Linked DNA regions of Homo sapiens: regions 1, 2 and 3 are each linked to region 4. Evidence: fine-mapped expression QTL. A gene starts in region 4. Each other region holds a variant in brackets. All regions are shown on one strand. Distances are between the middles of the regions.

Region 1 (5,875 bases), 96 kb after region 4:
GCAATAAACTTAGTGACTCTCACATTAGTGCCTTGAGTAAGCAATAGACAGTTTTATTGAAGAGATTAATGGCTAATGACATTGAGGTAGTTATCTTTCTCTTTCGCAATTTATTTCTGAAATGGTAAGAAAGGAATCTATTATGCTTTGTGCTGTTCAGTAGATATTTACTTATGGGATGCCTACTGTTTGAAAAACAATGTGAGGGCATACACGGATGAATTAGAGCAGTTTTTTCTTGTGGAACATACACACTGGGACCAGGAAGATGACCTGACTGAGGTAAAAGTCTCTGTGTGGACTATAGCAAATCAAGAACACTTGCCTTTCTAAAGAGTGCAGCTGGTGCTCCATTGTAATAAATTATTGCCATGTGGGTGGGATTCAGGGTCAGAGTTGTTAGATCTGACTTCAAGAGAAGCCTGAAATCTAGAGTTCTGTGCAATAGTCTGATTTTTTTTAAAGTATTATTAAGATTTTTAAGATACTGAATGGGGAGGGATTTTTTTCTTTCGTGCAGTGTGAGAGTCCACATTTCTTTAGTCCTCTTTCACCTCTATGCTGCATCACTGGTGACCTCTTTGAAAACATGTTGGGTTAGCCAGTGCAGCAAATGGGAGTCCAGAGGGGAGGCTGACATAAAGCCAGAAAGGAGCAGAGAACAGTGATTCCTAAAGGATTCTCAGGAGTAGACTTGCATCACTATAAATGGAACTCGACTCAACCTGATTATTATTATTTTTTTTTAGGGTGTAAAACTGGCACAATGTTTTCCTATAAAAACTAGTTTAAATAATTAGTTTGGATAACCTTTTTTTTTGCAAATTGTGCGAAAACATACATAACATAAAATTTACCATTTTAATCATTTTAAAGCATACAGTTGAGTGCCATTAAGTACATTACGTTGTTGTGCAGTCATCACCACTATCCATTTCCAGAACTTTACATCTTCCCAAACTAAAATGGTATCAGTTAAACACTATACAGTGTTAACTGTATAAACAGTATATAATACACTATATAGTTAAACTGTATCCAATTTTTTTGTTTGTTTTTGGGGGGGTTTTCTTTTGAGATAAGGTCTCACTCTGTAGCCCAGGTTGGAGTGGTTGGAGTACAGTGACATGATCTTGGCTCACTGTAACTTCTACCTCCTGGACTCAAGCGATTCTTCCACTTTGGCCTCCCAAGTAGCTGGGACTACGTGTGTGTGCCACCATGCCCAGCTAATTTTTGTATTTTTTATGGAGATGGGGTCTCACCATGTTTCCCAGGATGATCTCTAACTCCTGGGCTTAAGCACTCTTCTTGCCTCAGCTTCCTGAAGTGTTGGGATTACAGGCATGAGCCACCATGTCCAGCCTAAACCCTGTCAGTTAAACATTGCCCATGCCCCTTCCCCCACAGCCTGTGGCAAAACAACCATTCTGCTTGCTTGCTTGTTTTATTTTTTTTTTTGAGACAGAGTCTCAATTTGGTGCCCAGGCTGGAGTGCAGTGGCTCAATTTTGGCTCACTGCAACCTCACCTCCCAGGTTCAAGCGATTATCCTGCCTCAGCCTCCCGAGTAGCTGGGATTACAGGCATGCGCCACCGTGTCTGGCTAATTTTTGTATTTTTAGTACAGACGGGGTTTCAACGTGTTGGCCAGGCTGGTCTCAAACTCCTGACCTCAGGTGAACCAGCCTCGGCCTCCCAAAGTTCTGGGATTACAGGCATGAGCCACCATGCCTGGCCCACCATTCTACTTTCTATGAATTTGACTACTCTAGGAACCTAATATAAGTGGAATCATACAGTATTTGTTCTTTTGTGGCTGGCTTAGTTCACTTAGCATGATGTCTTCAAGGTTCTTCCATATCATAACATCTCAGAATTTTATTCTTTTTTTTTTTTTTTTGAGACGGAGTTTTGCACTTGTTGCCCAGGCTGGAGTGCAGTGGCGCCATCTTGGCTCACCGCAACCTCCGCCTCCCGGGTTCAAGCAATTCTTCTGTCTTAGCCTCCCAAGTAGCTGGGATTACAGGCGTGCGCCACCACGCCTGGCTAATTTTTGTATTTTTATTAGAGATGGGATTTCTCCACGTTGGTAAGGCAGGTCTCAAACTCCTGACCTCAGGTGATCCTCCCGCCTCGGCCTCCCAAAGTGTTGGGATTACAGGTGTGAGCCACCACACCCGGCCAATTTTATTCCTTTTTAAGGCTGAATAACTCCATTCCATGTATGTATATATGTGTGTGTGTGTAT[G/ATGTG]TGTGTGTGTGTGTGTGTGTGTGTGTGTGTGTGTGTGTGTATGTATATAAAATATATTCCATGTATGTGTCACATTTTGTTTGTCCTCTCCCCTGGTTTTTAACTGCCTTCTTGCCTCTAGTTTTCCCCCCTTCAAACCTTTTTCCATGATATAGCCATAGTGATCTTTCTGATATGCAAATAAGGTCATAGTTAAACAACCTCCTAACCCAGTTCTGCAGCCAAACCTTGCCACTATTTCGCAGTCAGACTGAACTGTTTTCATAATCAGTGTTCATGTTTTAGGCAGTGCTTTTGACAAGCATTGTAAATAACTCCTAGACGGTTTTTTGAATGATTCCAAATAGTTCTTTATGACTTGATCCCAGTTCCTTTTCAATAATTTTTGTGTTGCATATAGAGATATTTAATAGTTGCTTTAATAGGTATATACCAGGGATTGGCAAACTGTGGACTGTGGGCCAAATCCAGCAGAAGAGAGTAATTGCAACTCAATAGGTCAACGTCTAAAATACTTACTATCAGGCCCTTTACAGAAAAAGTTTTGGTATATACTATTCCTTTTGTTTTGTTTTGGCCTGGCTAACTTATTCATCCTTAGGTTTAAATTAGTTAAAACTTAAAGGTTTTTTTTTTTTTGCCATGATATTCTTTCTTGAAACAGTCCTATACCAAAGCCCAGCTTAAAAACAAAAGAGGAGTGTAGTTGAAGAACCAATCATGCCAGTTCCTAAGGCACGTGTTATAGAGCATGGTCATAAATTCAGTGGAGCCTCGTCTGAGATGTTTTCTCTTCTTGTCCTCTCCTTGTATTTGCTATGGGCTTTTGTAGTGCCTGCCAGCTACTATACTGAATTATTATTGCTTGTTTAGCCTTTTTGTCTTCCCAAGTAGACTGAGTGCCATGAGAACAAGAATCCTGCCTGACACAGAAGTTCTATAAATATATGTTGAATGAATGAATGAGACCCCAGTTGAACACTGGTAACCAAAACCAAGCTCATAAAGGACCTAAAATGATTTCCTTTCCTACTCTAGCTCCTTAGGAATACAGTCACAACATGCCTGAACTGAAGGCCTTAAAGACTATCTAGGCTTACGCTCTCCGGTACAGTAGCCACTAGCGCCATGTGGTTTTTGAGTACTTGAGCTGTGGCTAGTCCAAATGGAGGTGTGAAATACTGGGTTTCAAAGACATACAATGTAAAAGAATATAAAATATCTCAATATTTGTATTGATTACATGTTCAAATGACATTTTTGACATACTGAGTTAAACACATTTAATTATTTTAACACATTTTCTTTTTTTTTTTTTTTTGAAACAGAGTCTTCCTCTGTTGCCCAGGCTGGAGTGCAGTGGTGTGATCTTGGCTCACTACAACCTCCTCCCGGGTTCAAGTGATTCTCCTGCCTCAGCCTCCTGAGTAGCTGGGACTACAGGCGTACGCCATCATGCCTGGCTAATTTTTGTATTTTTTTTAGTGGAGACAGGGTTTCACCATGTTGGCTAACATTTCTTTTTTTTTTTTTTTTCTTTGAGGTGGAGGCCCTCTGTAGTCCAAGCTGGAATGCAGTGGCGTGATCTCAGCTCATTGCAACCTCTGCCTCCCCAGCTCAAGCGATTCTCATGCCTCAGCCTTCCGAGTAGCTGGGAATATAGGCGCGCCATCATGCCCGGCTGATTTTTTTTATTTTAGTAGAGACAGGGTTTCGCGATGGTCTTGAACTCCTGAGCTCAGGCAATATGCCTGCCTTGGCCTCCTAAAGTGCTGAGATTACAGGCATGAGCCACTGCGCCCGGCCCAACATTTCTTTTTTAATGTAACTATTAGGACATTTTAAATTATATCTGCAGTTTGCATTATATTTTCTGTTGGATAGCACCGTTCTAGACCATTGGCTCTCAAAATATTGCTGATGAGTTAGAATCACCTGGCAAACTTTTAAGATTATTGGACCCTGCCTCAGATGTTCCCCAAGTTAAACTCTCTGAAAATAGGGACCTGCCTGTGTGTTTTGATAAAGTTGTATCACATGGCCATTGAGAACCAACCAAGTCCTACCCCTCTTTTTATACAGAAGGAAACAGTCTAAATAGCAAAGTGACAATAAATACAGTCTTTATTTCAGTATGCTATCATAGTTTTCCCAGGTTAAAATTCATACTCTAGCTCTTTCATAAGTGATGGCTATTTTTCCATTGTCTCAAACAGTGGTTCTTGACTGAAGGTAGAATTGTGGCTGGCTTTAGTCATTTCAGCTTTTTAAAAACTGGTCATTTGGTGCTTTCCTAGGATACTGTGCCATTATCATAGTGACTGTATTTAGTGGATTCTCAAAAATGTCTTTTTATTTGTTGAGGCTTATTGAAGGGTCATTGTAAGAATGAATTAATCATTAGGATTTTAAACTTAAAGCAAAGTCCTGAATTGTCACCATGATTAGTATAGAATTTTCATCAGAGGCAGAAATAAAGCCAACTTTTCCCTTCAGAATCTTAAGAGGCTTTACAAACTTTTTGTTGAGTTGTGAATATCTGGGGATAATTTATCCCAGGTTTTCCTTGAGGTTTCTTCCTTCACGTATTTCAAGATGACTGGAGCAATTAGCAGTTAGCTTTTGCAGAAGTTAGCCCAGGCTCTGAGGTTTGTCCTTGACTTGCCTTAGAGTGGAATATATTTCAGCAAACACCTTTACTATTTAACAATCCTTATTTGTTCAGAACTGTTGGGTAATGGACAAGCATGCAAGTGTAAACATGCAGTCATGTGTAATACCTATTTATTTGAAGTCAAATCAGAGAGCTCGTGATAGCCAAGGATTTATGAAATTTTTCAAGTGGAAGCACCAAGGGATGCTTTTAGTCTAATGACCTTCTGTAGCCTGAAAAGTTAAGGGAAAGTGTCTCACCCAAAAAGCTTGGATTCTGTCCTAGTGCTTTTGACTCCGTTTTGGTGACTCTAAGCAAGTTGTGTTACTCTCTCCGTGCTTTGATTTCTTCAGTGGTAAAGTAAAGTGCTAGAGGAAGGGACCGTTAATGTTCTTGAAGAACACCATGATTTTGGGATTGATTTTCCTTCTTTAGTGTGTTTGTTTTCTTATTAACCTCCCTGTTTTTCTCTTGAAGGGTCAGATGACTTGTCTGCAAAGCTGTGGGATGTGAGCACAGGGCAGTGCGTTTATGGCATCCAGACCCACACTTGTGCAGCGGTGAAGTTTGATGAACAGAAGCTTGTGACAGGCTCCTTTGACAACACTGTGGCTTGCTGGGAATGGAGTTCCGGAGCCAGGACCCAGCACTTTCGGGGGCACACGGGGGCGGGTGGGTTGCCCTTTTTCAAGGGTTTTTACAACTTAGCCTCATCCTTTTAAGCCAGGAGCCAAGAATGTGAAATGCTTTTTTTTTTTTAATTTAACCTGCTTTTTTCAACCCTCTTTCTTAGTCATTGCAGTTATTTCCCTTTATTCTAGTTACTCTTATTTCGAATGTTTTACCCAGTTTTGCTTTTTCTTGCTTTCTTCTATGTGTGTACCCTTCTGGTGGGAAGGGTAGTTTTCATTCTCTCTCTGTTTCTCTCTCTCTCTCTCATTCTCTCTCTCCCCCCTCCTGTTTCATTTATAT
Region 2 (4,000 bases), 41 kb before region 4:
GGGCTTCCTGGAGGAGGTGGCGGTCGAGCTGAGCAGAGGCTGACAGAGAGTAAACCGGCCCAGTTACAGAGGAGGGCAGGAACGGGCGGACAGTGGCAGACTGACCAAGCTCCCCATGTGACTGTAGAGCACCCCCTCAGCACCAGCTGAGACCTGAGTCACAGCAGCCCCTCCGGGCATCCCTGACCTCAGCCCAGTGTGGGGGTAGGCAGTGCCTGGCCTGCTCAGATCCTCTTTGTTCTGTGCAGGGGCTGCAGAGGTGGCACTCATGCTCCCAGCACCCTCTTAACAGTCACATTCCCGGAGGCCCCAGGTCTCAGAATGGGGCCCCCCGCTAGGGCCCACTGTGACCCCACCACAAAGGGCCTGGGTAGCCAGGGTGGCCGGAAACACCACACACGCAGAGACTCCTCAGACCCAGACAGAAGAACGAGTGTTCCCTCAGGGCTGGGAATCTGTTTTCTCTGTTTCTGTCTCCTCCTCGGAGGAAATTCCACTGCACACTTTATTTTTAGCAATTTGCAAGCAGTGAGGCCACTCACACAGGGGCCACTTGTGACACCAGACAGGGTTGGCCCAGGACAGATCCTCTGTTCTTCTCCTGCAATGCAGTCTGATTCCTGATTCCCTCTCCTGTCCCCTCGGTCCCTGGCCTTTGAGTGAGGCCACCCCAGGCAAGGACACTATGGTGGGGAGGACGGAGCCTGCACACGGACTCCAGGCTCCTGGGCTCCCCTCGCCTGCCCCGTTGCCTCCTGGAAGTCACTGATCGCCCCTGGGCTTCGGCTTCTCCACCTACCCGAGGGAAGCAGAACCTCAGAGCCCCAACCTCCCCCTCATGGCTGTGAGGATCTGATGGGACAGTGTCTACATGAGTGCCAGGAGAGCAGCAAGCCCATGCAGGGGCTCACAACTGTGAGAGAGAATGCACAGGTGTGCCCAGCTCCTCTGCTCACAAGCTCAGCATGACCTTAAGCCATTCCCTCTGTTTCTGCCTGTGTTAAGGTGACTCTAATACAGCCCCACCTGCCTCAGATGATTGTCACAGGGATCCTATGGGACAACATTCAAACATATTTTGGTCCTGTTCATTTAGGAATGTTCCTCACCACCTTGAGGAAATCCAGTGGGAAAATGGAGTTTTAGAGAGTTCATTGTTAAAGAGTTTGTGATGTGAGGATTAAATGAGATACATGTATATGACAGCCACTGAGGGATTGGGACTGGGAGATGTCCCGGGGCAGTGCTTAATCCACAGGAATAAGAATACTAATTAGTAGTAATACTAGTAGTATTACTACTATTAGTATTATTAGTGTTATTAGTAGCAGTAGTATTCAACAAGTATTCAGTAGTAGTATGGAATAATTTCAATAAATATGAGCCATTATTACTATTAATTTATTATTAGTAATAATGGCTCATATTTATTGAACACTGTGTTAGGCAGAATAATGTCCTCCAAAGATGTCCACATGTGAATCCCCAGGACCTGTGAGTATGTGACCTCACATGGCTCTATGCATTTGCCAGGGCTGCCATAACAAAGTGCACAGACTGGGTGGTGTAAACAACAGAAATGTATTTCCTCGCAGTTCTGGAGGCCAGAAGTTCAAGGCACGGTATTGGCGAGTTGGTTTCCTCCAAGGCCTCTCTCTTTGCCTTGACATGGCTGTCCCCTCCCTATGTCTTCATGTGGTCCTTCTTCAAATTTCCCCTTCCTAAAAGGATACCAGTCACATTGCATTAGGGCCCACCCCCAATGACCTCATTTTAATTTAATTAGCTCTTTAAAGGCCCTGTCTCCATATTCTGAGATACTGGTGGTTAGGACTTCAACATCTGATTTGGGTGGGGGTTGCTGAGCCCATAACAATGGCAAAACAGACTCTGCAGACACGATTAAATGAAGGATTCTGAGATGGGGAGGTGACCTTGGATTATCCAGGAGGCCCAAGTGTCCTCAGAAGAGGGAGATGAGGGTCAGAGAGAAGGGGAGATGCTCCACTGCTGGCTTTGAAGATGGAGGAAGGGACCACAAGCCAAGGAGTGCAGGCAGCCCTGAGAAGCTGGGGAAGGGAGGAAGCCATCCTCCCCTTGGGCCTCCAGGAGCAACGCAGTCCTGCTGACATTTCCATGTTAGGACCCCTGGCCTCCAGAACTGTACGATAATAAAGCTGTGTTGTTTTAAGCTGTTAAGTTTGTGGTATTTTGTTACAGCAGCAATGGGTAACTAATACCAGTGCTTACATGTATTATCTCATTTAAT[C/A]CTCACAATAACCCTGTAAGGGGGTATTATTATTATCCCCATTTTGCAGATGAGGAAACTGCAGAACAGAGGAGTTAGTAACTATCCCAGAGCCACAAAGCTAGTATGTGAAGTGACAGAAACAAGCTCTGAACCCCAAAAGGCTGGCTCCAGAGGCCACATCCTGAACTCCCGTGCACTCTAAGGAATGAATAATGATGATGGAGAAGCCTCTGAAAGCCTCTCAAGTCACCCCTGCCCCTTTCTCCAGCAACTGTTCAAGGCTCATCACAGTCCACATCTGTACACGCATCACAGAAGGATGTCCCTACATCTGAATAGCATTTCACTCCCTAAAACAGACATTTGCTGTTCACACAACGCCAGGACAGCTCCGCTGCTGAAAGACACATCCCCTCCACCTGCGGGGTGATGTCTGGAATTTCACTCTTAGCTTGATCATTTTCATGTTCTTATCTCTTTTATGACTCTCCCACCAAGCTTTGACCCTTAGAACCACAGACTATTGGAATCATGGACCTGTGGGGAGGGGTGGGACCTGAAAGGCTCCCCCAGGTATATTCACCAAGGAGCCAGGTCTACACATAGCATCTTCCCTCCACTGTTCTCACATGTCAAAAGCTACATGTTTGGGGAGGTTTCATCACCACAGACTTCCCGAAGCCAGCACGGTCTCCCTGCCAAGGCCGCCCTCTGCCTGCCTTCCATAGAACATCTGTTTTCTATTATTTATTGGGAACAACTTGTCCCTGAAGCCCTGGGCAGTTGGTGGGTGGGGGTGGGGGCAGGGTGGCCTTTGCTGGGCTGTGTTCTGTGTCTCAACCCAACTGTACTCATTAAGCCCACAGCTCTCTGGTTATGTTACTTTTAAAGAATAATAACTAGTGTGACTTTTTGTATTTGCTCAGTCCGAAAGACCTCTGTCCTCTCCTGCTTTCGTCCAAATCCCCTTTCACGTGGTTCCATGAGATTATTCTCTCAAAAAAAAATAAATAAATAACAAAGCGCTTATAGAATCAAGATTTTATTTATATGCCATAAAACTCACTCATTTTAAGTGTACAGTTTGATGAATATAAATAATCATGTAACCGCCACTACAGTCAAATGGCAAATGTTTCTGCACGGGATAAAGCTGCTTTGTGTCCCTGCATAGTCAGTCCCCTCCCCACCCACAGCTCCAGGAGGCAACCACTGATCTACTTCCTGTCACTCTAGTTTTGCCTTTGCTAGAAGCTCGTAAGAATGGAAACAGGTAGTATGTAGTCTTTGGTGTTTGACTTCTTTCACTTAGCATAATGTTTTTGAGGTTCATCCATGTTATTATTTATGCTGGTATTTAATTCCATTTGGTTGTTCTGTAGTATATATAGACCAATTTGTTTACCCACTCACCAGCTGATGACACATTTGGGTTGCTTTGAACAAAGCCGCCATGAACATTCACATACACACCTTTGTGCAGACATATGTTTTACTTTCTCTTAGGTAAATTCCTAGGAGTGAAATGTGTGGATTGTATGGTAACTTTATAAGTATGGTTTATAAGTAAATTATTTTATAAGTATGATTTAACTTTATAAGATACTTTCATAGATTGTATCTGTTCATTATTCATTTATTTTTTTTAAGAGAGACAAGGTCTTTCTCTGCTACCCAGGCTGGAGTACAGTGATGTGATCATAGCTCAGTGCAGCCTTGAACCCCTGGGCTCAAGCGATCCTCCCACCT
Region 3 (5,875 bases), 71 kb before region 4:
AGTTTAGCGTGACCACACTGAAAGCTCCACTTAGGTAAGGTCTGAGTCTGTTCTATTCGCCAGTATCTCCTGTAGTTGGCACAATGTCGGGCACATCATAGGGACTCAATAAGTGTTTGTGGATTCCCCTACAGTGTAGAGAATCAGAAGACCCAAGTTCTAGTCTTGGCTTTGGCCCTAATTGGCAGTGATTTGGGACAAGCCTCTTAATCTCTTTGATAGCCTATAAAATAAGGGAATTGGACACTCTAATGTCTCTTTTATCTATAGCTAAGAAGATGTTCTATAATCTTATGATGTGAAACAGGAAAAACCAAACGGCATATAAGCATCCAAATATTGGGCTTATGTATTTCATTCTTTCTTTCTCTCTTTTTTTTTTTTTTTTTTTTTTGAGACACAGTTTTGCTCTTGTTGCCCAGGCTGGAGTGCAATGGCGCAATCTCGGCTCACTGCAACCTCCGCCTCCCGGGTTCAAGCAATTCTCCTGCCTCAGCCTTCCAAGTAGCTAGGATTACAGACATGTGCCACCACACCCAGCTAATTTTTTGTATTTAGTACAGATAGGTTTTCGCCATGTTGGTCAGGCTGGTCTCGAACGCCTGACCTCAGGTGATCTACCTCCCTTGGCCTCCCAAAGTGCCGGGATTACAGGCGTGAGCCACTATGGCCGGCCTGGGCTTACATATTTTGTCTGTAAGTATGGAGACAGTGCAGAGAAGTAAGCTGGAAGAGCTGCCAAGGCTTTCTGTAGAAGGACACTGGGATTTGGGTAGGTGGGAGGTACAGGGAAGGCCTTTCTGGTTAAGGGGCAACGCTTAAGGCAGGTTTCCCCAGGGGTAAGCAAGATGTTCTTAGGTGATACGATGCACATTGTTCACTTTAGTGGCTATATGTTTATTTTAACATGTATTTTAAAAAAGTAATTAGCACATCAAAGCCATGATGTAACATTTTCTTCCAAAATAAATCTATTTTCCAAGAAGTAAGTCTATTTAAGAAAAAGTATTGAGTAAATAAAAGTAAGTTTATTCTTAGGGCAAAAATCATGCAGTTGGCATGCAAATGATTGACGTTTAAGATACTCTGTCTTAAGAAAACACGTGGAGGTCTGTGAGCCAAGGTTGAGGCAAGCAGCCTTGCTCCATATTTCTCAGTGAGAAATTCTGGACCAAAGTCATGTTTAGTCTTTCTTTCCAGACCCTATGATGCTGATGTATTCAGCAACACCCAACAAACATGTATTGATTGGTGACTGCAGGCTAGGCCCAATTCTAGGTGCTTGGTACCAAGATCCCTGCCATTGTGGAACATAGATTCCAACTGGGAGAGATATGTAATAAAAAATAAAGAGAATAATTAAGCAATTAGTCTTGGATCTCAGAAAGTGATAAGAGCAATGGGAAAAAGAAAAAGCAGACTAAAGGAGACTGGTAATGGTCAGGGGAGGGGTTGCAGTTCTAAATAGGGTGGCCAGGTCAGGGTGGGCTTCAATGAGAAGGTGAAATTTGAGCAAAGACTTGAAGGATGTGAAAGAGTGAGCCACATAGCTAGCCAAGGGGAGAGTGTTCCTGGCACTCTTGGTACATAGTGTCCGGCCTAAGGCAGGAGCATGCTGGTGTGTCACAGGAAAAGCAAGGAAGCAGGGGTGGCAGGTGCAGATTATGAAGCCAATGGAAGAGGCTTTGGCTTTACTTGGAAGGAAACAGGAGCCATTGCAAGGCTTTGAAAAGAAGAGTGACATGGTCTGTCTTGCCTTTTTAAAGGACTACTGTAACTGCTGTTGAAAATAAGGCAAGGGTAAAGAGAACGGATAGGAGGCTACTGTAATAAACTAGGTGAGGGATGATGGTGCCTCAGACCAGAGTGGTAGCAGTGGAGGTATTGAAAAGTGGTTGAATTCTGGATATACTTTAAAAGTAAATGATACAGTTTGGATATTTGTCCCCCAAAATCACATGTTGAAATGTGATCCCCAGTGTTGGAAGTGAGGCGAGGTGGAAGATGTTTGGGCCATGGGAGTGGATCCCTCGTGAATGGCTTGGTGCCCTCCCCATGGTAATGAGAGTTCTTACTCTGTGAGTTACCACGAGATCTGATTGTTTATAAAGAGCCTGGCACCTCCTTCTAGCTGGTTGCTTCCTCTCTCACCATGTGCCACTTAGGCTCTTTTTTCCCTTCTACCATGACTGTAAGCTTCCTGAGGCCTCACCAGAAGCAGATGCTGGCACCATGCTTCCCGTATAGCCTGCAGAACCGTGCGCCAAACAAATCTCTTTTCTTTATAAATTATGCAGCCTCAGGTATTCCTTTATAGCAATACAAAAGGGACTAATACAGTAGGCTTAATTGAAGGGACTAATATTGTAGGTTTAACTGAATTCCCTGATAGAGTGGAAATAAGTGTGAGAGAAAGAAAGGAGTCAAGGATGATGCCAAGACTTTTGGCCTGAACAACTGGAAAGATGGAGTTGCCTGAGATTAGGAAGGCTGCAGATGGAGCAGGTTGTGGGGAGTTAGGAATCTGTTCAGTTTTGGATGTGTTGAATTTTAGAAGAAATCTATTAAACATCCAAGTGAAGGAGCCTGGAAGGCAATTGGTCATATAGTTATCTAGTTCAGGAGAGAGCTCTGGGCTGAAAAACATAAATCTGAGAATCATCAGCATACTAAAACCATTAGACTAGTTAAGATCACTAAGGATGTGAATACAGACAGAGGAGTGGAAA[A/G]AAAGAAGACCAAGGATAGACATTTTGAGCATTCCAAGATGAAGTTATTAGAGAAAAGAGATAGAGGATCCATTGAATTAGGAGAAAAAACAAGAGATGAGGTCCCCTCAAGCCAAACAAAAGAAAGAGGTTCTGGGAGGAAGAGTGTTGAACTGTATCAAATGCTTCAGAGAGAAGTAAGATGAAGACTTGGCTGTTGGGTTTAGCATTGGTGACTTTGACAGGGCAGGTTGGGTGGAGTAGTGGGAAGAATAGCCTGAATAGAGTGATTTAAGAGTAGATAGGAGGAGAGGATTTGGAGACAGGGAGTATGGACAACTCATTCAAGGAGCAAAGAAATGGATTGAGGGGAGTAGAGTGAAGGAAAGTTTAAGACGGAAGAAATAACACATTTGTGTTCTAAAGGGAATGACTCAGTAAAGAGTAAATAATTGACGATGCAGGAGAGAGAAAGGAGAACTACTAGAGTAATGTCCTTGAAGAGGTAAGAGTGGATAGGATCTGGAGCACAAGTGGAGGACTTGGCTTTAAATAAGAACATGACTAGCTCACCTATGCCAGGGGTCAGCAAACTTCTGTAAAGAGCCATGCATTAAAATAACTGTAATATTTTAGGCTTTGTGGGCCATAATTCTCATAAGTCTCTATTGCAACTGCTCAACTCTCTCATTGTAGCACAAATGCAGCCATAGATAATGCAGAAAAGAATGGGCATGGACTAGGCAGGCTGGATTTAGCCCTTGGGCAGCAGCATACCGATCCCTGATCCATGACCCATGGTTGTAGGCAGAGAAGCTGAGCACATGCAGCAGACGCTGGCAAGGGGTAGATGTGGTGAGAGTCTGTGGAAGTCCCTTTCTCAGAGAAGTAGGATGAAGATCATCACCTGAGATGGAGGATAGGGAGGAGCAATTGGAGGTGTGACGGGAGGAAAGAAGGGTGAGACAGTTATCTAAAAGAGAGGGAGGCTGAACCAACTAAGGACTTGTAATATATTTGCTTCTTCGTATTAAGGGTCCACTTGAAGTTTCTAGTCATGAATTTAAAGTGGGACTGATCAGCATGGGTTGTGGGATTTTCTCCAGCCACATACACATCCTTTTCAGAATCTAATGAAAGCTATAGACTTATCAATTCCCTCCAATCAAGACAACCAGGAATACCTGGAACTGAACAAGTTTCAGTTTATTGAGTCTTTGCAACAAGGGAGAACACACACCATGGGGACCATAAGGCTTCTCGGTGAGAGTGCATTAGAAAAGCCTTATTATAGGATTTGTACTTGTGATAGAGTATTTGGGAGGAGCCTCAAAGAAATGGAACTTTACTCTGGATTGGATGCTTTCAGGAAGCAGGGGCAATCCTATGACCCAGTATCTTATTTCTTTTCTAGCTGGGAGGAAAAGTAGCAGCACTTACTCACTTTAGCCAGGAAAAGGGTGTGTGTGGTCATTTTTGTGGTTTGGACAATGTTCTTGTTTTTATATCCTGCTCAAACATGATTATAGAGTAGTCGTTTTTAGTATGGATCCATTTTGTCTGATGTTGATGTTCTATGACATCAGACACAGAGAACACCCCAGCCTGGCTCTGGGCACCAGACTGGCTCCCAGGGACACCGAGGCCTCACGCCAGTTGTCCAGGGCCACTCTTCTCTTTCACAGACCCCTGTCCCAGAAACATGCACATACACACACCATGCTCACAGCCTCATACCTGACAGAGGCCCCCCGCCACCAAAATTCCACTCCTTCTCTGTTTCCATCATTATAGTCAGATATGTGTATGTTACATGCACAGTCATGAATTATACAAATCTAAAATGCCCACACCAGAAAGGACCTAGAGCTCATCTCATCCGATTCCTTCATTTTTTGCCTGTGAACATGGAGGTCCAGAGGAGCAGCTTGTCTAGGATTATGGTGCTGATAAATGGAAAGGCCAGGACAGAAGCCCAAGTGAGGCCTCTGAACACCGCATTCTTCCCACCACTGAGATGAGCAGGAGTTACAGAGACACCAGTTTTGGCTCCCTGTGAAGAAGCATTTTCTTATAGCCATAGCCATTCAAAAGTAGAGTCAGGTCCAAGTTCCTTATTGCTGGGGCCATCTGAGCAGAGTCTAGCTGCCACCTTCCAGGGATGTTTCTGGGCAATTCAAGGTAGGGGGCTTAATGTCCCTTCAGTGCTGAGAGACTTTTAATAGTCAAGAAAACATCTACTTGACTGCTTTAATAAAAAGGTGAAGTTTTCACATCTGAAAAACAGAAGTACTAATAATACCCAAGTCAGAGGATTTCTGCAAGGCTCAAATGAGATAATACAGATAATGCACATAAAATGATTAGCACAGTGCCTGGCACAATAAAAGTAACTTGTGGCTGGGTAATAATACCTCTCTGGCACACTAGAGGTGGTAAATTCAATAATTTTTTACCTGTGAACATCCTACTTAGATTCATAAAATATTGACATTTAAAGATCCTCTAGAGATCATCTCATCAATGCCTCCCCATTTCACAGACCAGGAAGCAGGCCCAGGGAGGAGCCAGGACTCACCAAGAGGGTTCCACAACAGAGCTGGGGCTAGAACCCGCAGCACCAGGCTCCTCTGCCTTCCTATATGCAGCCTGGTGTCTCCTCAGGGCCTAATAGAAACATTGCCTGCAGGGGCAAGCAGAGACCCGAGCCTGGTGGTGAGGGCCAGGGCTAACATGTCTAACAGATGAGTTGGGAGCAATCAGAGGGTTTTGGTGTTGTTGTTGTTAGGCTGGAGGGGTGTGTGTGTGTGTGTGTGTGTGTGTGTTGGTGTTGGAAGGGTGGTCGGTGGGAGGGGGGTTGAAACTGAATGAGACAAGAGAAATTGGAGTTAAGGAAAGGATTGTTTGGCTTAATAATATATTTTCCAAATAAAGAACCTTTAGGAAATTAGAGCCAGGACTAGACTGTAATTCTCTGAGGGCAAAGGAAGAGGAAGGGAAAGGAGATATGCTTAGAGTTGGAGGAGAAGGCAGAAAGGTTTCCTGAGTCTGTTAGGGCCTTGGGGCAAGGCTGGTCGTCATTCATCCTCTTCTTGCCTCCTCCTTTCACCTCTAAAGGCGAAAGGCCAAACTGTGGTCTGTTCATTAAATAAATGCTGGGTGTCGAA
Region 4 (5,875 bases):
AGCACCTTTTCACATTTTAGGCTATTTTAGCCATTTAGGTTTCCTCTTTTGTGAGTTGCCTGTTGATATCCTTAATCCATATTTAAAAAATTGGATTGTTGGTCAGCCCATTAAACTCCCTCCACCTGGCACACCCACCTCCCTATTTCCACAACCTAACTGATTGCTACTTTTTCCGGGAAACTTGTTCTCTTTCCTCAATTCGAATTTAGAGTTGCCTCTAAATAATCACTGGTGACACCGTACCTTTCTTGTGGCATTTATAATTTCCTGTTCTGTAGTGTTTTAACTTCTTATTTTGCATATCAAACTTTTTAGTTTACAAAAGCACCTGCTCCTTCATTGTCTTATTTGAACATTTATGCAACAGCCCCACGAGATGGGTAGTATTATTACCCTCTTTTCAACCGATAAAGAAACATGGTGTAGGAGGGTCTAGCTAACCCAAGACCCCGCCCTGGCTCAGAGGCAGAGCTGGACTTGAAGCCAGGACAATTCAATTCCACGTGCAGCTCACAGCACAATCCCCTCTTATTTATCTATGCATCAACACCGCCTCCTCCACGAGGTTGCCAGTTCCTTGTCTCTCATCCACCTGTGTGTCTCCCATCCACCTGTGTGTCTCACATCCCCCCGCTCTAGTCCCACACAGTGGGGCAATCAAGATTCTGAATACAGAATTTCTTAACAAAGTATTAATACAATGATCACTTACTGCACACCTACTGGGCACCAGGGGCTTTGCATACATTAACTCTAACCTTCCCAATAACTCTATTTAGGTGAGGACACGGAGGCTTAAGACTTAAAGTCTCTGGAGCAAGAATTGTTTAAAAAAAAAAGAAAGAAAGAAGTGACACACTCAGGCTCCCATGGCCAGTAATGGGTGGAGCTGGCCTGTAGCCTCAGAGGTGAGCACTTCGCTCTATCATCTCTGTCCCCCAGCATCCTGAAGGCAGACCCAGCCAGCTTAGAAGCTAGTGGGAGTGTTCTGCTCCCATCATCAGCCCTACCCGCGTTGGACACACCTTCTCTTGGCAGAACATGGTTAAGTAGCACAATCCTAGGGCCCCTTTGGGACTTGAAAATGTGCTCTCCAGGATTGGGAGATTTTGTGCCATGGGGCTGCTCCCAGGCTTTCCTTCCAGGTTCAGGCAGGTACTCAGCAGTGCTAGGTTCTGCTGAGGCGCCAGGATCCAGAATGGGGCAGTGAGGCAGGTGAGAGCAGGGGGATCAAGGGGCAGAAGGAAGTGAGGAAGGAGGTGAAAGGACTCCTGGATCTCTGCTGAGAAGGTGAGGTGGGGGGCTGCACAGATCATGCTCCAAGGCCAGGAGGCAGAGGGCCCAGAGTGAGCAACTGACAGTGAACAGGGAAGGCTCTGGGGGAAGGTGCTGTCCACTGGCCACACCCATGAAAGCACATATCCCTGTCTGGTGGGGGTGTCTGCAGAGTGGGATGGTAGCCACAGAGGTGGGCGCTGTGGACTGAGGGCAAGGATGGGGGTGGGGTTATTGGTAAGTGTTCTTCCTCCCTTCCCCCAAGAGTGAGTCTGGGTGGGGCCATGTCTGCCTTTCCCCCACAGGGCAGGGTCCCTATGATTGGAGCTCTGCCCACTGACTCCATCTGCCATTCCTATGACTCTGTGCATGTTGTCTTTCATTGTGTGCCCTTTATTTACATGACATGTTGTGCGTGTGGTATATATTTGCGATTGTACCATGTATTTCTGTGCACTGTGTCTCTACGCAATTTGTTGTTTGGGGCTATTTCGGCCATGTAGGTTTCCTCTTTTGTGAATTGCCTTTTGATATCCTTAACCCGTATTTTAAAAATTGCATTGTTAGCCCACTGAATTCCCTCCACCTGGCACACCCACTAACCTATTTCCACAACCTATCTGAATGCCACTTTTTCAGGAAAACTTGTGTCTCTTGCCCGTCTGTGTTGTGACTTTATGTGTTATGTCCGTCTACCTTACATGCATGTTCTGTTGTGTGTCTCTGTTGTGTACAGTGTGTTCCCCCTTGTGTATCTATGCCTATGGCTGGTGTGTACAGTACTTCTCTTTGTGGTGTGTTTGTGTCCTGTACATGCTGTGGTGTGTTCTGACCTGTGTCGGAACAACATGCGTTGTGCACTGTGTGTTGTGTATCTACATTATACTTGTGCTGTGTCTCTGTGCCGAACGCCTGTGCTGTTAGTGCAAGGTGTTGTGTGGCCTGTTTGGGCGTCCTGGGTCTGTGTCTGCGCCAAGGGTCCGCGCCGCCCTGCTGTGTGTCTGTGCCAGGGTCCGCCGGTGCCTGCGCGCAGAGCTGTGTTTCCTCAACAAGTGTGCGAGCGGTCGTGTGCGCCATGAGCGCTGCCTGGCGTCTCCGTGTGCGCCGCGGTGTGGCCGCTCCTCGGCGGGGGGCCCGGGTCCTGGCTAGTGGCCGCGGAGGATGCGCGCCCGCGGGGCGGGCGGGGGCGGGCGGGGGCTGGCGGCGCTGCGGAGCCCGGCGGCCGCGGGCTCCAATGGCGAGGCCGGCGCGGCCCCCGCTAATTACATAAGCGGGACGTCAATAATTCGCGGGAAAACGCGAAAAAGATGGCGCCCCGCGCCCGGGGGGCCCCTTCCTGAGCGCCCCGGCCCCTCCCTCCGCCGCCTCCCCCTCCTCCCCGCGGCGCCCCCGCCCCGCCCCGCCCCCGCCGAGACCCCGACCCCGGCCCCACGGGCGGACACTCGGCCGGGCAGCCGCGGGCCGAGCGCAGCCGCCTCCGCCACCGATGCGCCTGGTGGCCAGACTCCAAGTGGGACCGGCGGACACGCAGCCTCGCGGTGAGTTCTGCGCTGTTGGGCGGACTCCCCGCCACGCTCTCCCCTCCCGGCCCTCATCCCTCTCTTTTCGAAATCTCCCTGAACTTTGGCGGCCCGAACGCCTCCGGGGGGTGAGACTCCTGCGGAGCGGGGCTCTCGGGGGTGGGGACCGGGGGTGCAGGTTACCTGCGGGGCAGAGGGGCCCCACCCGGGTTCCCGAGCCCCGGGGGGCATGGGTGACAGGTCGTTCTTCCTCGCCCCCGATCTTTAATTTTCCTATCGGGGTGGGGGAAGGACAGACGGGCGTTTGGCATTTCGCTCACGTCCGAAGTCAGGCTGCGGCAGGGTTGGGATGGGGGAGGCTTGGCGTCCGAGCGACTGAGGAGAGGAGCGCTGAACCCGAAGGGGGTGCTTCTGCAAGCTTTTTCCCCCCTCCTGAACATCCTTTTTAAAAAGCCAACGGCCGCCCTGGGAGAGGCCCCGGCGCATGAATCATCCTCGCTTCCTGCCCCCGCCCGGCCCCGCGCTCCCGGTGCCGCGGATTTGAACTGGACGCAGACGGGAACCCGCAAACAGGCATTTCTTTGCAAATGGGTTTGAATCAGCCAATCACAGCCCGCGGGGGCCCGCTCCGGGAGGACGGAGGCGGGGGCTGGGGGGGCGCCACCCGGGGGCCCCCGCCCGGCCAGGGTGGAGGCGGGTGCGGCGACCCGGCCGGCTCCTAGAGGCGCAGCGGGAGAGGAAGTGTCAGTTTGTGAACCTGCAGCGGCCCCGGCCTGGCCCCTGGCCGGGCGGGCGGGGACCTCGCAGCGCCGGGCGAGCCAGGTGGCAGGGAGAGGACAGGGATTCAGACCGCATCCCCTGCCCGGGAGCCTGTGCGCTCTGCGCTGGAGAAAAAGGAGATGGGAGTGGGGGTGGAGAAGGTCGTGGCCACGCCACCATCTGGGGAGCCGAGACCCCTGCAGTGCCTGGCTCGCCCCAGGGCCCCGCACATACTTAGCTTCACACACTCCCTGGCACAATGCCGTAGACATCATCCTGCCCAGTCTCACAGGAGTACACACACGCACCACACAGAAACAGGCACTGGACTCTCTCCCTGTGAACAGATAGTCACAACACCAGGTGCCCAGCGCCATGGCCACAAGGAGGAGACCCGAGTAGGCCCGCGGGGAAAGAGAGAGGCTGTGTGTGGCTGTAGTGGAGAGCATGTGGAGGGACTTGGAGCCAGGTGAGCCCAGCAGAAAGGAGGGGGCGTTAGGGACGGCTTTGAGCACCAGTGAGGGCAGTGGGGAGCCCCAGAAAGTTTCTGGAAGGAAATTGGTGGCCCTGCGGAAGAGTCTGGTGGAGAGGCAGGAATGCAGGAACGGCCTGTTTAGCACTGGGTGCTGGTAGTACCGTTCCCCACCCTAGGTGCCTAGTGGAGGTAAGCACAAGGCCCAGGAAACTGTTATTGGGTGAATGAATGAATGAATGAATGGCCCAAGCAAAAGATGAGGCCTGAACTGAGACCAGGGCAGGAGGATGGAAGCTAGAGCTGGAAAGCCAGAAATCATGGCACTTAAAATGGGCCGGCTGTGGCAACTAATTGCTTGGAGGAGTTTGAGATGCATGAAGGCAGTACCACAGGCAGGGAGAGAGAAATCGATGGGTGAACTGCACGTTGAATAGGATGGTGAGAGACAGGCGTGGAGAGGCTGGCATGGGGATGGATGACTTCACTGCTTGGAGCAAATGTGTATCTGGGTGAAAGCATAAGTGGGTTTAAATGTCCCAGAATTGGTTTCCATTAAATCATCTCATAATTGAGAACAGAAGGGGGGATTACAAAAGACAGATGACCCAGTCTACACTAGCTACAAGCCACCCAGTTTTCCTTTCTAGGTGAATTTTCTCTGGACAGATCTCAGGTTAGGGATGGTTGCAGGGGTTGGGGGTAAAAACAAAACCCAACTGCTTGCCTGGAGAAGATCCTCCATCCAGAGCACATGGACTGTGTTTGCTTAAGGAATAAAACCTCAGCCTCCTGAGACAGGGAGTGGTTCAGGCCCGCTGGGTAGGGGACTTTGTTCTGTGTGGGTTGAGAGATCCATTCTCTTTAAAAGGTAGTGTGGTATGGGCCATGGCTCTGCCTTTGGCCCATCAGCCTCTTCTCCTTGCCACACCTGTTTCCCTATCTGTAAGATGTGAATAATAATAATGTCTCCCTCATAGGATGGTCACGAGGAATCAGTGAGATAATAACCAAGTCTGGCTTATAGCACAGGGTACAGAAATGGTGGTTTCCTTCCTTCCCCTGATGGGCTTTCTGAAGCAGGGAAGCAAGAAGCAAAAACCCTGTTCTTTCTCTCCCAGTGTCAGGGGAAGCTGATGGAGAATCGAGCTCTGGATCCAGGGACTCGGGACTCCTATGGTGCCACCAGCCACCTCCCCAACAAGGGGGCCCTGGCGAAGGTCAAGAACAACTTCAAAGACTTGATGTCCAAACTGACGGAGGGCCAGTATGTGCTGTGCCGGTGGACAGATGGCCTGTACTACCTCGGGAAGATCAAGAGGGTAAACCCATCCTCTCTGGCCCCTGTTCTCAGACTCAGAATCTCTCTGCTCATGTTCCAGCCTGGCTGTCAGACCAGGGGGCAGGGGGATTGCTGGAGAATTCCCTTCTTGTCCCTCATGCCCAAAGCTGGTGGTGGGAGGGGCCAGAGCCTGGTCTTGCAGGCACCATCCCTAGGGTCAACATCATCCAACTAGTTCTTTAGAAAAGTGCTCTGAGAGCCTACAAAACAAAAAAGTCAGGTTTGAGAGGATCACAGAGGAGCATCTGACTTGTGCTTCTGTCCTCAACATTCTGACCAAGTTGCCATCCATCGGTCCCTGGCTGTACGACTCCAGGTGACTAGGAGTACACCCTGTCCAGGAACTGCCATCCTTCTTCCCCTTCTAGCCCTGCTTTCTGGAACATACGGAGACAAAAATGGGGGAGGAAGACTATGTTCCAGGTTGGCTTTTCCCCAGCCCTTTCTCACTTGCTCCTTCCTATCTGTACCCCAGGTCAGCAGCTCTAAGCAAAGCTGCCTCGT

Which allele goes with the higher level. Positions count from the first base shown, and alleles are read on the strand shown. Sizes are in standard deviations (SD) of each study's normalised expression. Not every link is listed here.
As copies of ATGTG replace G in region 1, the expression in CD8 T cells of the gene that starts at base 2,719 in region 4 goes up (moderate effect, 0.48 SD a copy in CEDAR).

Evidence for each region. PIP is the estimated chance that this variant, and not a neighbour inherited with it, causes the effect. A credible set is the group of variants that fine-mapping cannot tell apart.
Region 1: its variant is the best candidate, but not a certain one, in a credible set for the expression of PHF19 in CD8 T cells (CEDAR, PIP 0.81).
Region 2: its variant is the best candidate, but not a certain one, in a credible set for the expression of PHF19 in blood mononuclear cells (TOPMed, PIP 0.67).
Region 3: its variant is the best candidate, but not a certain one, in a credible set for the expression of PHF19 in whole blood (TOPMed, PIP 0.70).

What each region holds. Positions count from the first base shown.
Region 1 is chr9:120,778,051-120,783,925 of GRCh38, reverse strand. It overlaps FBXW2 (F-box and WD repeat domain containing 2), which reads left to right. Exons shown (of 8, transcript NM_012164.4): 4 at 5,381-5,575. Among named protein-coding and RNA genes, the nearest start is that of FBXW2, 12 kb to the left of the region's middle. The variant G/ATGTG (reference allele first, on the strand shown) is at 2,251.
Region 2 is chr9:120,915,736-120,919,735 of GRCh38, reverse strand. All of the region lies in intron 3 of TRAF1 (TNF receptor associated factor 1), which reads left to right. Among named protein-coding and RNA genes, the nearest start is that of TRAF1, 9.1 kb to the left of the region's middle. RefSeq lists an enhancer at 222-371. The variant C/A (reference allele first, on the strand shown) is at 2,270.
Region 3 is chr9:120,944,739-120,950,613 of GRCh38, reverse strand. The region is part of intron 1 of C5-OT1 (C5 3' UTR overlapping transcript 1); the gene reads left to right. Among named protein-coding and RNA genes, the nearest start is that of C5-OT1, 5.2 kb to the left of the region's middle. RefSeq lists an enhancer at 5,719-5,768. The variant A/G (reference allele first, on the strand shown) is at 2,730.
Region 4 is chr9:120,874,032-120,879,906 of GRCh38, reverse strand. PHF19 (PHD finger protein 19) reads left to right here and starts at 2,719. Exons shown (of 15, transcript NM_015651.3): 1 at 2,719-2,816; 2 at 5,151-5,351; 3 at 5,847-5,875. The coding sequence starts at 5,166. RefSeq lists enhancers at 1,920-1,969, 2,230-2,279, 3,291-3,882, 5,693-5,875 and silencers at 2,400-2,679, 2,920-2,969, 3,250-3,699.